Homo sapiens: one gene and its partner. The protein of the gene in region 2 interacts with the protein of the main gene of each other region in a biochemical or structural test. Each region holds a gene or a part of one and is shown on either strand. Other genes may lie near its edges.

The links. Proteins that work in one complex are often made in the same cells at the same time.
Region 1: the proteins of USO1 (region 2) and GOSR2 form a complex in vitro, tested with the Homo sapiens proteins (one study listed by BioGRID).

What each region holds. Positions count from the first base shown.
Region 1 is NC_000017.11:46,918,830-46,926,161, reverse strand, and holds the start of GOSR2 (Golgi SNAP receptor complex member 2), read right to left. Parts: upstream 3,003-7,332; 5' UTR 2,970-3,002; coding exon 2,941-2,969; exon of another isoform or gene 2,530-2,940; intron 1-2,529. UniProt on the Homo sapiens protein: Involved in transport of proteins from the cis/medial-Golgi to the trans-Golgi network.
Region 2 is NC_000004.12:75,719,809-75,727,583, reverse strand, and holds the start of USO1 (general vesicular transport factor p115), read right to left. Parts: upstream 3,008-7,775; 5' UTR 2,765-3,007; coding exon 2,699-2,764; intron 1-2,698. UniProt on the Homo sapiens protein: General vesicular transport factor required for intercisternal transport in the Golgi stack; it is required for transcytotic fusion and/or subsequent binding of the vesicles to the target membrane.

The sequences.
Region 1 (7,332 bases), on a different chromosome or scaffold from region 2:
AGGTAATAGTTCTTAAGCTCCGCTGTTCAGGAAAAAAAATGGTCTTGAGATAAGGTAACAGTTCTTAAGCCTACCTGCTCATCAAAACCACCTAGGGAGCTTGTTAAATGTAGTGCTTCTTGTGTCCTGGACATACGATAAGGTCCAGGACAGGAGACTGATCTTGGACTACATAGGGGACAAATGTGGTCACCTTTACAACCATTGGGATCTCAAAAATAGAAGCCTGGCTATTAGCTCCTCTATAAAGTTCATCTAAATTAAACATTTAAGTGTAAAATGTTTATTGTTTTCATTCATTCATTATTTTCATTCATTCATTGTTCAGGTAGGTTCAGGAGTTTTCAAGTAACTTTAATATGTCAATCTAATTCCAATGTACTCAATGTATTCAGTGACACGGCAAGAGATAATCACAAACTGGGTTCAAAGTTCCAGTAAAATTAATAAGTTCAGCTACTGTTGTGTCAACTCAGCTACAATCACTAATTTCTGCAGTTGCGAAAGTTCATTGCTGGTGCTCACTGGACTCCACGTGTTTCTTGTGAAAGTCATTCAGTCATCAGTTCTGTTATCATGGAACTGAAAGGAGCCTTACAGTTTAACCAGCCCAAATTATAATATCATTCTACAGATGAGGAAAAATAAAGTAAGGAGGTCTAGAACCAGAACTCCCACTCCTGGTTCAGCACTGGAGAGGAAAGATAGACAAGATACTGCAGCATAAAAGAAGGTAAACTCCTCGAGGGCAGGGCTGTGCTGCCAGCACTGAGAATGGTGCACAGCACATAGTAGGTGCTCAATAAATATTCAATGAATTAATGAGTGTCGGGGTAGCAGAGGGCCTAATAGTTGTGGGGCAAAGCTGGCCCACTGCTTGTTTTGATAAATAAAATTGTACTGGAACACAGGTACATCAATTAGTTTACATATTGTCTATGGCTGTTTTCCCAATATAACAGCAGAGTAGTAACTACAGAGACCGTATAGCCCACAGAGCCTAAAATATTTACTATCTGGCCCTTAATAGAAAAAACTGGCAAGCTGCTAGAGTCCAAGGGTGCATTGTTGGAGGCCTACAGAGCATCTACACTCCACACACCTTGTTTGGGGTACCATTTAGAATTCCTCTTCTGAGCCATGCAGTTTTCTCTGTGATTAGCTGCACTGAAAACAGGTAGTCTAAGACTCTCTAAATAAAGTTATTCTTGAATATAAAATGGGTCATGGCCTTCTTGGCAACATCCTTTAACTAAATTAACTAGATAAGACCATACATAACAGATTAACTTCAAGGCACTACTATGCCCATTGTGCCCTGCTATTGTGAAAGATAGGCCCTTTCTTAGTAACATGAACATAATTTCGTTTCATTCTTTCTCTAAATTACTCACAGACTAGTTTTAAGTCCCTTCCTATAACGTTTATGTGAGAATAGGGCTCCCCAGTGTAAAAGAAAATTCTGTCATTACAAAGTAGGTTCTGTATTTTCGCCTGTCCAAATGAAACACCTCATCGCCAAAATAAAAGAAACCCATAAACTTAGAAAATGAAAGAGAAAGAGGATCATCACCCTCTTATTCCTCATGCTTCAGGGCATTTCATTTCCAGGCCTTGGGAGTGTGATTTTAAGTGTTTTAATCAACAAAACTACAGCATAAGTTTGAAAGTTCTCAATAGGATAGGTATATACCTCAAAAAATTGAGAAGAGAAACTAAAACAGATACTTCTACACCAGAGTTCATAGCAGTATTATTCTCAACAGCCCAATGGTGGAAACAACTCAAGTGTCCATCAACAGATGAATGGATAACAAAATGTGGTAGACACATAAAACGGAATATTATTCCGTCATAAAACAGAATGAAATTCTGGTAACAGGCTACAATATAGATGAACCCTGAAAACATTAAGTGAAATAAGCCAGATACAAAAGGACAAATTCTGTATGACTCCACTTATATTAAGTATCTAGAATAGGTAAACTCATAGAGAGAAGTAAAACAGAGGTTACTAGGTGTTCTGGAAGGAAGAAATGAAGTGCTACTGATTAACAGGCACACTGGGATGATGAAAAAGTTCTGGAAATGGATCGTAGTGATGTAAGTTGTGAATGTACTCAATGTCACTGAATTGTACACTTAAAAATTGTTAAAACAGTAAATCTTATGTTGTGTATATTTTACAATAAAAAATAAAAATCATAAAATTCCGTCCCTCCAAAACAGGGTAAAAATCATAATTCTGCCCCCCGCCCCCAAAAATAGGGTAAGTATGGCCCCATTAATACTCAACTACGTATCTCAGCAATTCCGAAAGTGCAGGACGATGCGAATAAAGGACACTACCAAGGAATTTAAGTTATGAGAAACTAAATTACAATTTGATTTTCTTAGCGATAACCTGTAACCAGATACGATTAACAAGTAATAATAGTGAATGCTACGTGGACAGCAATTTCTTTGTACCATAAAAATGTGGTCTTTAGTATAAATCGAATAAGAATACAAATACTTTCCCGTACGTGCCCTGACTCTCCAATTAAACAGTACACTCCTACGGCCAGGGGCCGTGTCTCCTACTCCGTGTCTCCTCTCGAGGTCTACCAACCAGGAGCACCGAGTTGACAAGTGCTGGACAAAGTTTTATAACCTGCAGGTGCCAGTTTCCCGTCACCCAGTCTACCCAGCAGGTAGTCACGAACTTGCAGACCCCAGGAGTCATCTGCCCCACGTCTCCAGGCCCCAGCCTGAACCCACTGTCTGTGGCTGACCTGGGAGTCCCGCCAAGGATTAAGCACTTCGGAGGCATCCCCAGCAGTGCCCTGGCGGAAAAACTCGGCCTCTACCCTGGCTGACGTCCGAGGCCTCAGCCCCAGAAGCCAGGCTCACCTGGCCTCGCCTCGTCTAGCCCCTGCCCGCTCCCCGACCGGCCCTCACTTGTGCGTTTGCTGGAACAGGGGATCCATGTCGCCGGCCCCGCAGGCCACGGCTCCGGCTCTGGCTTCCTCGGAACACGTCCTCACAGCCCCCCTTCCGGTTTCCGGCTTCCGGTCGCAGGACCCTCCCTCCCCTGCCGGCCAGGGCTGCCCGCACGCGCGCCTTACTAGCAGTGGTTGCGAGATCGGAGAAGGGGAAGGAGAAATGAGGCCGGCGACGGAAGGATAAGTGTAGTCACAGGCTCGGCTTCACGTGAAGGGCAAGGCGGTGTACATGTTCGCTGAAGGCTAGCCTCAGGATTCAGTCAGGCGTTAGGAAGGACAATCGCGGGATACTAACGAGAGGTCCTCAGAGCAAAGTTGAAGGCGAGCCGCTATCATCTGCTGTTCTCTGCCGCAGAGAGGACTGGAGGTTCTTGCTTGGCTTCACTTTAAACCATTTAATCGGGGGTCTGGAGATTTCGCTCTTCACTGTTTTTCCTGGCGCAAGCTTTTCCTGTTTCGCATTTGTCTACTCACTCTCCCGCCTATCTACCCCCCATTCCTATTTATCCATCCAGTAAACCTACATTGAATGAGTGGTTATTATGTGTCATGTGTAAAGTAGGGAAAACCGGGTTCCTCCTGCCCTCAAAGAGGTTCTGGTCTGGGAAAGGAAATAAGATATGTATACTCTCAAAAGACAAAATTACAAGAAATGTAGTTATAGATTTTTTTTCTTTATTTTATTATTTTTTATTATTATACTTTAAGTTCTAGGGTACATGTGCACAACGTGCAGGGTTGTTACATATGTATACATGTGCCATGTTGGTGTGCTGCACCCATTAACTCGTCATTTACATTAGGTATATCTCCTAATGCTATCCCTTCCCCCTCTCCCCACCCCACAACAGGCCCCGAAGTGTGATGTCCCCCTTCCTGTGTCCAAGTGTTCTCATCGTTCAGTTCCCACCTATGAGTGAGAACATGTAATGTTTGTTTTTTTGTCCTTGCGATAGTTTGCTGAGAATGTTGGTTTCCAGCTTCATCCGTGTCCCTACAAAGGACATGAACTCATCATTTTTTATGGCTGCATAGTATTCCATGGTGTATATATGCCACATTTTCTTAATCCAGTCTGTCATTGTTGGACATTTGGGTTGGTTCCAGGTCTTTGCTATTGTGAATAGTGCTGCAATAAACATACATGTAAATGTGTCTTTATAGCAGCATGATTTATAATCCTTTGGGTATATACCCAGTAATGGGATGGCTGGGTCAAATGGTATTTCTAGTTCTAGATCCCTGAGAAATCTCCACACTGTCTTCCACAATGGTTGAACCAGTTAACAGTCCCACCAACAGTGTAAAAGTGTTCTTATTTCTCCACATCCTCTCCAGCAGCTGTTGTTTCCTGACTTTTTAATGGTCGCCATTCTAACTGGTGTGAGATGGTATCTCATTGTGGTTTTGATTTGCATTTCTCTGATGGCCAGTGATGATGAGCATTTTTTCATGTGTCTGTTGGCTGCATAAATGTCTTCTTTTGAGAAGTGTCTGTTCATATCCTTCGCCCACTTGTTGATGGGGTTGTTTGTTTTTTTCTTGTAAATTTGTTTGAGTTCATTGTAGATTCTGGATATTAGCTCTTTGTCAGATGAGTAGATTGCAAAAATTTTCTCCCATTCTGTAGGTTGCCTGTTCACTCTGATGGTAGTTTCTTTTGCTGTGCAGAAGCTCTTTAGTTTAATTAGATCCCATTTGTCAATTTTGGCTTTCGTTGTCATTGCTTTTGGTGTTTTAGACATGAAGTCCTTGCCCATGCCTATGTCCTGAATGGTATTGCCTAGGTTTTCTTCTAGGGTTTTTATGGTTTTAGGTCTAACATGTAAGTCTTTAATCCATCTTGAATTGATTTTTGTATAAGGTGTAAGGAAGGGATCCAGTTTCAGCTTTCTACATATGGCTAGCTAGTTTTCCCAGCACCATTTCAAAAACGATGGTTAGATCCCACGAAGTAGGTGGTAATGCCTTAACCGTATGCGTGTTGTCAGGCCCAAGGGCCTCTTCCATCCTTGTCAAAGGGAGTGCTAACCTTCTCTCCTTTAATACAACACAGTTACAGATCTTAACTGGCTATTTGCGATTCTAGCACCAGGCAACACCTTATTCTATAAAATAGAATGAGTATTCTGATGAGCTGAGCAGAGGAGATTATCTTTATAGACAGAAAAGGGCTGAAAAAAAAAAGCAGAAACAAAGAACAAGTTTCAAAGTTATTTTACTTGTATTGGTTAAGGCAGAAGGGACTTCCTTTATCATGGGGATATGGCTATTTTCCCTCTCTTCTGATTTCTCCTAAGGTCAGATGAGCAGCTTAATTTTGGCTTTGTGGCTTGGAACTTTAGCATGAGTGACTCTATTTTGGTTTGGCCTGTTGCGCCTAGTGCAGGAGCTCAGTCCAAACCAATGGCTTTCTATGAATTTTATTTATCAAGACAAACATTCTAGAAGGTAGAAAATCCAAAGAGATTGAGCTGAGCTGGGGGTCGTCTCTAGGAGGAGATTTAGGAGAGACTTAATGAAGGGGTGGCATTTGAGCTGGGACTGGGTTTGGACACTTCTCTGTCTCCACATAGGCTATCCCGTTTCCATCCTCCAAGCTTATCTACTATTCCTCCCAAGGCAGGAGACATTCTTTTCTTGGACAAGTTGATACTTCTCTTTTCCTGGATCCTGGATCCCACCCAGTTTTGTGTCCCAAGAGACTGTCCACCCATGTACATTCTTTTCCTAAAATTATTTTTTTCACTTTTTCTATAATTGAGCATCTACAATGTACCATGCACAGATACTGGAGATAGGAACACAAGCAAGACACAGCCCTAAAACCTCCCATATCTCTCATGGTCTGTTGGGAGAACTAATCATACCCTCAAGCTACATTATTAAGTAGAATACATGCTACAATTGATACAAAGTACCATTTCCGTGGGAAGGGCAAGAACGGTTCATGGACAAAATAGCATATGAATAAGACCTTCAAGAATCAATAGAATTTTAACAGTGTCTTGTATATACTAACCACTCTGAAAATGTTTATTGTGTCTGCCTGGTAGAGATGAAGAGGAGGGCATTTGAGGCTGAGGGAATAGCTTGAGCAAAGGCAAACAGAAGGAAAGAACATGAATCTCCTCTGGCTGGATTCAGGGTGTTTGGGGCAATAATAGTAGTCGAAGAAAGGTTAGAACGAGATCATAGGAATTTTTTTTTCTTTCTTTCTTTCTTTTTTTTGAGATGGAGTCTCGCTCTGTTGCTCAGGCTGGAATGCAATGGTGCAATCTTGGTTCACTGCAACCTCCGCCTCCTGGGTTCAAGCAATTCTCCTGCCTCAGCCTCCCGAGTAGCTAGGATTACAGGCACCCACCACCACGCCCAGCTAATTTTTGTATTTTTAGTAGAGACAGGGTTTCACCATGTTGGTCAGGCTGGTCTCGAACTCCCGACCTCAGATGATCCACCCGCTTTGGCCTCCAAAGTGCTGGGGTTACAGGCGTGAGCCACTGCGCCTGGCCAGGAAATCTTAAATGTCAGATTGGGTTTTTCTTTATAGATTTTTATTCTGCGGGTAGTTGGAAGCTATCAGAAAAATCTATCAGAGGATAGTAATGTAAAAAATTTCTCAAATAATTTTCATGCCTATGTCTTGTTTTCCTTTGGGTCTCATGGCATCCCTGGGAGGTGGATAAGGCAGATAAGGAAATTGAAGTCCAGAAGATCTCCCTTCTGCCTCTCAGTCTCTTAAGTCTTTATACGTATTTAGGCCTTCCTCTAAATAGAAGAAAATGCCACTCTCCAGCTTACTGCATTTTTAACTTATATCCCATTTTTTCTTTTTCTTGTATGGCTAAACCACTTGGATAATTGATATATACTGCTGATATTCTCTTGGCATGACTTACCCTCCAGCCTCTCCTTCATTTTACTAGAACGTTTTCTAGGCTCACCAGAGTCCACTTGACTTAGTCCATTGGTCTCCTTCCATAAATCATCCTACATTATAGATTCATTGAGCTGATAACTGTGTGTCAAGCACAATGCAAGGGCTGATATACAAAGATGAGTAAGACACCACCTTACCATAGAAGCTCTTTAATATACTGGGAGGTAAACATCTATACAGATAATTAGAATCCTATGTGGTGAGTGTGGGGTACAGTAATTGGGAACTGTGGGATGACAAGGAGGGAACACTTAGCCCAGTTTGGTGACTCAAGAGAGATTCAAAGAGGAGATGATACCTAAACTGAATCTTGGAAGATAAGGCCAGTGGGGAAAACATCCCAGGAAGAGGAAACAGCGTACACAAAAGCAAAGATATATGATGTGCAGGGGAAACTACAAGCAGTTT
Region 2 (7,775 bases):
TATAAATACTTCTAAATTAGTAATCCATGACCCCTTTTACCTGTTGTACTTCCTGGTGGAACGAAATAGTGAAACAAATTTTATTCATACTGTACCTCAGAATAATAATTTTCAGAAGGCAAATTGCTTTATTGTGGAGGTGATTAAAAAGAAAAAATAGAAGACAAATTACTTTTCCAATTTTAAATGTACATACTCAAAGTTAGGCAAGAACAAGAAAGGACCCTTTCAGTTTATATATACAACATACGCAAGTGATACTCAAGTTTCACTTTGAAATTGTGATATAAAAACTATGTTGTTCCATCCACAGTGGCAAGATCAAAATGTTCTAGCTCCAACTCTTCAACCTTGTGCAAGCTACTTTAGTGCTCTGTGACTATAAAATGAAGAGGCTCTATCTGGGACTTTCTAGCTTTAAAATCCTATACACTGTGAATTCTATTCCATCTTTTCTACAGAAGTCACTGTGACAAGGCCAATAATAACAAAAACAGGAAAGGGTATTCTTCGTTCAACCCACACATAGTAAAAATTACCTCTCATTATACATCTACTAAGTGCCAGGCTCTTTCTACTTATTTCACTTAATCTTCATTACATCCTAAAAAGCAGGCATTTTCCTCATTTTACTTAGAGGGTATTAGCTATCTCTTACATATCCAATCCAATCAGGGGTGGAAAGCCAGGATTCAAATCAAAGTCTAACTCCACAAAGCAAGCTGTAATAAACCATATTTCATAACCTGGTGCCACAAACACAAATATCAGACAAAAAAGTGGTGGGCTGTGATTATGGTATGACTCTGGTAATCTAGACAGAACATGATCTTCTAGTAGGGTAGCTCAGGCTGCCTTGTTGCCAAGTGGGAATGGATGAGTGAAGCCAAATGTGTGCGTGTGTTACAGTGAGAGACAGAAAAGTGATTTTCAAATGAAAGAAACAGATTTACCGGCTTTCATCTTATGCTTTAAACAATTCTAACCAGACCTGCGCAGTTATTTTTTTTTTTTTTGAGATGGAGTCTCTTCATGCTGCCCAGGCTAGTCTCAAACTCCTGGGCTCAAGCGATCCTCCTGGCTTAGCATCCCCTTAGCTGGGATTATAGGCCTGTGTCACTGCGACTAGCTGCAGTTAATTTTAGTAATACTATATAAAGTTCCCAAAAAGTATTGAAATACAGGCATGAGCAATAAAGTGAAGGCTTTGAAGTAAGGTACCTCTTGGTTGAATCCTGGCTCTATTATTAGCAGTGTGACATTGGTCAAGTTACTTCACCCCTTTTTTTTTTTTTTTTTTTTGAGACAGAGTTTCGCTCTTGTTGCCCAGGCTAGAGTGCAATGGCACGATCTCTGCTCACCGTAACCTCCGCCTCCCGAGTTCAAGCGATTCTCCTGCCTCAGCCTTCCGAGTGGCTGGGATTACAGGCATGTGCCACCACGGCCGGCTAATTCTGTATTTTTAGTAGAGACGGGGTTTCTCCATGTTGGTCAGGCTGGTCTCGAACTCCCGACCTCAGGTGATCCGCCGGCCTCAGCCTCCCAAAGTGCTGGGATTAGAGGCGTGAGCCACCGCGTCCGGCCTACTTCACCCCTCTCAGTCTCATTTTTTGACTTTTAAGGTGAGAATACTCTCACCTATCTTGCAGGGTAGTTAACGATTAAAGCATAATGTGGAATATAAAGAGCTCAGCACAGAACCTAGCACAAGGTAAGAGCCTGACAAATGAAAGCTACTATATTATCCCTCAGGATCCCATTAACAAAGTTAGCCATTAAAGTGTTATACTTAGTCTCTTTTATGTAGATCTAAAATTCTTCTCAAATAAAAAGTTTATTTCAAAAAGGCATACACCCTCGATTCCATTAAACACTAACCAAACTTCAAAATAAGTGTATTCTAAACCTAGAATCTAAGCAACTATTAAATAATGTTTTCAGCGGCTAACCATTTTTTTTTTTTTTTAAATAACGCCGCAAATCATGTCATTAGGAGTTCAGGCAGAAAGCGGTGGACGTGTCCCCAAAGCAGTTTGAGCGCTTAAGATCCCTACTACGTTCAAGGTAGCATTTGCCAAATGATATATATTTGGGTGAGCCCGAAAAGCCGGATCTGAACAAATAACACCAGGCAGAACGACCGCTCTTCCAGTTGATGGGACAGGAGCAGGTGGATTTGTCCTTCAAAGAATATCGTTTTATTCTTAGCCAAATGCTCTCACCAACAGCTGGGTTTTAAACCTTCTCGCAGTTTTCCCCAACGCCCCAGTTTCAGACTGCGAGGGAGGGAGCAGGACTTCAGGCTCCTCTCGGCCAGTGCAGACGAGCGAAAGAGAAAGAGGGAGGGGCCCACGGCCCCGAGGGGCGTGGGAGGCAGTTCGGGCCAGCTCGGCCGCGCATCCGTCCCTTCCCGTGCGGTACCACCTGCGGACCACTCTCCTAGCCCGAGCTTCAGGGCCTACAGAGCTGCGGGGCGCGGCCGCCGTCAGTCCGGCCGAACGGCAGCAATGGGGACTGAGCTGGGGGCGTGATTGAATAACTCTGGGATTTCAGGAGCGGAAGGAGGGCAAAGGGGGAGGCGGCATGTGGATGCCCCCTCCATGGTGGGACGCTGGAGGTGACCTTCGGGTCTCCGAGTGCTCCGTCCCCGTCCCTGCCCGGACCCCTTCCCAAGTCCCAGACCCGCTGCTCCTCTCACCGTCTCGGCTTCTGTGTGCTGGGGTCCGGCACTCTGACCCCCCATTACCCCGCGGAGGAAATTCATCTTGCCGTTCAGCCACCAGGTTTACCGGCCCCTCCGGAAAAAAAAGAAGACAACTTCCCCCGCCCTCCGCAGGGCCTGGGCCCCAATCCCGCACTCTACACACTCCTACTGCTGCCACCACCGCCTCCAACTCGGCGGCCACTCCAGCCCTCTAAGCCCGGAAACAGCCGCCAGCAGCGGCCAAGATGCGCATGCGCGGGGACGTGGCATTACGTGGCGGCTCGAAGGTTGAAGGCAAAAGGGGAGCGGAGGCGAGAGGAACCTCTTAGCTAGGTTCCGCCGAAGCCCCACCCACTGCGCAGACCCCGCCTCCCACCGCAGGGGCACGCCTCCTACCCCCACCCTTCGCGGATTGATCCTGCTGGCCGCAGCCACCCACGTGGTGGAAGCCCGGCCCTGCAGGCTGGAGAGGATTTGATTAGACTACGCGTTTCGACTTGCAGGGTGTTTAATCGTCGCCAAGCGGGACTTACTGCAAGCTATCAAATCTGAGGTCTTATTTTGTTGAGTCGAAAGTGAAATTTTCCTTTGGCCAACGTGACAGGTAAGGCTTCCTGGCGCCTGAGAGGGTTCGCTTGGTTTGACGGTTTACTGGTACCAGCATTGTGGCTTTCTGATCCCGGTAAATTGCATTTCTTTACAGGGCTTTGTTTGGTGGTAAAAAGGGTTACTAGACACCCCTCATTCCACTGCCACTGGAGGGCGCATTTCTCAGCTCTTGCTCTTCAAACCTGCTGAAAGGAATTCCTAGATCTAAACACCAGGTACACCTCTATTTTCAAGTGTCGTCAGGAGGAAACCCATCAAACCCTACATTTAGCTTACTAGAGAAATACATTGTTCTGCTGTGTCAGTTTGGCGAGTAACATAATGTTTCGTTATTAACTCTCAACCCCTGTGTTTTCAGTTTTTTTTTTTTTAACATGAAAAATTGTCATTTTCTCTAATTGGTATGCCTGTTCCTTTGGCAGTGAGGTTGTCAGTACACATGCTTCTGGAATAGTCTTGTAAATTTCTTGAGGCTAAAAAGCACAGGTCTAGTTAGCTAACTGACTCATGCACCTCTCCCCTTGGATTCCCCACAGGTCTCAGATTCAGCATTTAAAATTGAACTCGTCATCTTTCCCTGCCTCCCTTAAAGAAAAAAAGTCAATATGCTGCTTCTACTGTGTGCGTGCCGTGCTCAGTAGTACCACTGTCCAAATAATTGCCTAAGCTAGACAGAGGAAGCTGGGAAGAATCTTAGACTCTGGCTTTCCACCCACACATGTCCAATCAATAGTCATGTCCTATCATTTCTATTTATAGAATATTTCTCAAATAGGTGTTCTGCTCTCCATCCTCTGTGCCTGTGACATAGATTATGTTCTTCTCATCATTTCTCATTGAGATGACAGCAACAGCCTCCTAATTAGTTTGTCTGCATTCAGCCCTGGCTTCCTTCCAGTCCAATCTCCAGTCCATCCTTGGGTGAGACTAACAACAACAAAACATCTGTTCATGTCATTCCTCTTAAAATCCTCCAGTTGTTCCCCATTCTGTCCAGAATAAAGTGCAAACTCCTTAGTTTGTCATACAGGCCTGTTATGATTTAGCTCCTGCCTACTTTTTCAGCTCCTGCCTCCCCCACATACTCTGGGCATTTTTCTCAGACCTGGATATGCCCTTCCCTTCCTTTCTCTTCATCAAGCAAACTCCTGCTAATTCCTTAAGGCTCAACTCTGACATCATTCTTGAAAGCTTTCCCTAAAATGTAGGTACACATCTATATGTTAGCACTTTGCAGTTATTGATACTGTATATGGTGTACATTGAATAAATGCTTGCTAAACCAAACTGTTAAGGGCAGGACTATGTTATTCATTTTATATCTCTGTTGCTTACCACTGTCTCATAAAAGGTGATATTGATGGATAAATGAATAAATTATTGAAAGAATATATGAATATTATACTAAGAGGAGGTTCCCTTTTTTTAATCTGTAAAGTGAAATTGTAGGGAAGACATCATAAGCTATGTGTTTCCTAGTGCCAACATTTTAAGCCTGGGCAACTTGGAGAATGGTGGGGTCATACTGCCAAAAATACTGTGCGCTAAGCATTGTCCTCTGCTTTAAAGCTATACACTTGACATTTTACCGTAGACATTTTCCATGGGAGCATTTTGTTGCAGCCTAAAAAAAGTAACCAGTAAATTACTCAGCATTTTTGTTACTAAGAAATGCATGCAAAGAACTTCACTTAAGCCCCTAAGCCTCACCCCTCCCTGAACCTCACTTCACCTTGTCCCTGAAACTCACTCTACCCCATCATCAGGAATGAGGCTCATAGACGGAGTGGGCCACAAATGTCTATTACTCCTCTTATTTAATAATTAAAAAGAGTGCCTTGACATTTTAGCAAAGTTGTTTAAAGGCACCAGCCTTGTCAAATGTCCTGTTTTGTTTTAAACTTTGGTGGGTACAGTAGGTTACTGTACTTCAGTGAGTAAAGTAGGTTACTATACTTTCGTGAGTGTAGTAGTAACAGCTTACTATGAATTTTCCCTGCATTTGACCTGTTTTCTTCCCCAGCAGCATCCCCTGCACAGGAGTGATGGACAGTTGGGTGCAAAGGTGATGAAGGTGGGATCCCCGAGGCATTGTCACTACAGAACAACCATGAAATAGACTCCTTATTTCAGAGGAAGAGTTACATATTAATCCACTTCTACTGATTTTGTAGAGGGAGAAAAGTCAGGGACTGTGTTGTATTCCTGTTTGCATCCTTTAATCATCTAGTATAATTCCTTTAATATGGTAGATGCTCAGGAACTACCTGAGTTAATAAAGGAAGAGAAAACTTGAACAAATTGTGACGGCCTGACTTGCACTGTTAATACTTCTGGCTTTCATAAATCTAAGCATTCAGGATAAGAGTCCTATGAATCATTAAAATACATATAATCAAAATTAAGAGTGATCTTTTTCTAAACCAAACCTGACAATAGATCAACGAACAAAATTCATTGGTTTGAAATTCATTTTTTCAAATTGCTTTTTTCAGTGGCCCACTTAACTTTCTAGTGGAAAACTCGCAAAAACAACGAAATATAATTGCATAAGATTGTTTTTTAGTTGGGGTGGTAGTAAGGTGGAATGTTGTCTATGCCTGCTTGGGAGGATAAATATAAATGATCATTTGTATTTGAAATCTATCATATATAGGTTTTTATTTATTTATTATTTTGGTAGGTTATAAGCCCCTTCAGTATCGTATATAGGTTTTTAAAGACGTAGCTCATGGCTATAATCCCAGCACTTTGGGAGGCCAAGGTGGGAGGATCATTTAAGCTCAGGAGTTCAACACCAGCCTGGGCAATGTGGCAAAACCCTGTCTCTACAAAAAATAAAATATTAGCTGAGCATGGTGGCATGCGCCTGTATTCCCAGCCAGTAGTCCCACTTACTTGGGAGGGTGTGGGAGGATCGCTGGAGCCTGGGAGATCAAGGCTGCATTGAGCCATGATTGTGCCACTGCATTCCAGCTGGGAGGATGGAGTGAGACCCTGTCCCAAAAAAAAAAAAAAAAGACTAGTTGAGGCTGGGCGAGGTGGCTCACGCCTGTAATCCCAGCACTTTGGGAGGCTGAGGTGGACGGATCACCTGAAGTTGGGAGTTCCAGACCAGCCTGACCAACATGGAGAAACCCCGTTGTCTACTAAAAATACAAAATTAGCTCGGCGTGGTGGCACATACATCCTGGAACTCCTGGGTTCAAGAGCTCTTCCTGCCTCAGCCTCCTGAGTAGCTAGGACTACAGGTGCACACCATCATGCCTGGCTAATTTTTTTTTTTTTTTTTTTTTTGTAGAGATGAAGTCTTGCTATGTTACCCAGACTGATGTCAAACTCCCGGCCTCAAGCTATTCTCCTGCCTCAGCCTCCCAAAATACTGGGATTGCAGGTGTGAGCCAACTGCCCCAGGCTTCAAAATATTTTTATTTATTTATTTATTTATTTATTTATTTATTTATTTATTTATTTTGAGATGGAGCCTCGCTCTGTCACCCAGGCTGGAGTGTAGTGGCGCGATCTCGGCTCACTGCAACCTCGGCCTCCCGGGTTCAAGCGATTCTCCTGCCTCAGCCTTCCAAGTAGCTGGGAATAGAGGCACATGCCACCATGCCTGGCTAATTTTTTGTATTTTTAGTAGAGACAGGTTTTCACCGTGTTAGTTAGGATGGCCTCGATCTCCTGACCTTATGATCCGCCTGCCTCAGCCTCTCAAAGTGCGTGAGCCACCGCGCCTAGCCCTCAAAATATTTTTTTTTTTTTTTTTGAGACGGAGTCTCGCTCTGTTGCCCAGGCTGGAGTGCAGTGACGCGATCTCAGCTCACTGCAAGCTCTGCCTCCTGGGTTCATGCCATTCTCCTGCCTCAGCCTCTGGAGTAGCTGGGACTACAGGCGCCCGCCACCGCGCCCGGCTAATTTTTTGTATTTTTGGTAGAGACGGAGTTTCTCCGTGGTCTCGATCTCCTCATCTCGTGATCCGCCCGCCTCGGCCTCCCAGAGTGCTGGGATTACAGGCATGAGCCACCGCGCCCGGCGCCCTCAAAATATTTTTAAAAGCCTTAGGAAATCCTTGGGAGAGGAGAGTCCAAGAAAGAAGGTTTTGGTAGCTGGGCGTGGTGGCCTATCATTCCAGCTATGCGCAGGAGGCTGAGGCATGAGAATTGCTTGAAGTTGCAGTGAGTCAAGATTGTGCCACTGCACTCCAGCCCAGGTGACGGAGTGAGACCCTTTCTCAAAAAAAAAAAAGGGTTCTGGGCCCCCCCATCCTGCTCCATTTGATTGGTTTCATTTGTTTATACTTCCTGTTTCGCTTGAACAAAAAGATTCAGAGGCTAAAATGTTGGACAGCTACCTCTCTCAGGAGATAAGAAATGAGACCAGGCCGGGCACGGTAACTCACCCTTGTAATCCCAGCACTTTGGGAGGCCGAGGCGGGTGGATCACCTGAGGTCGGGAGCTT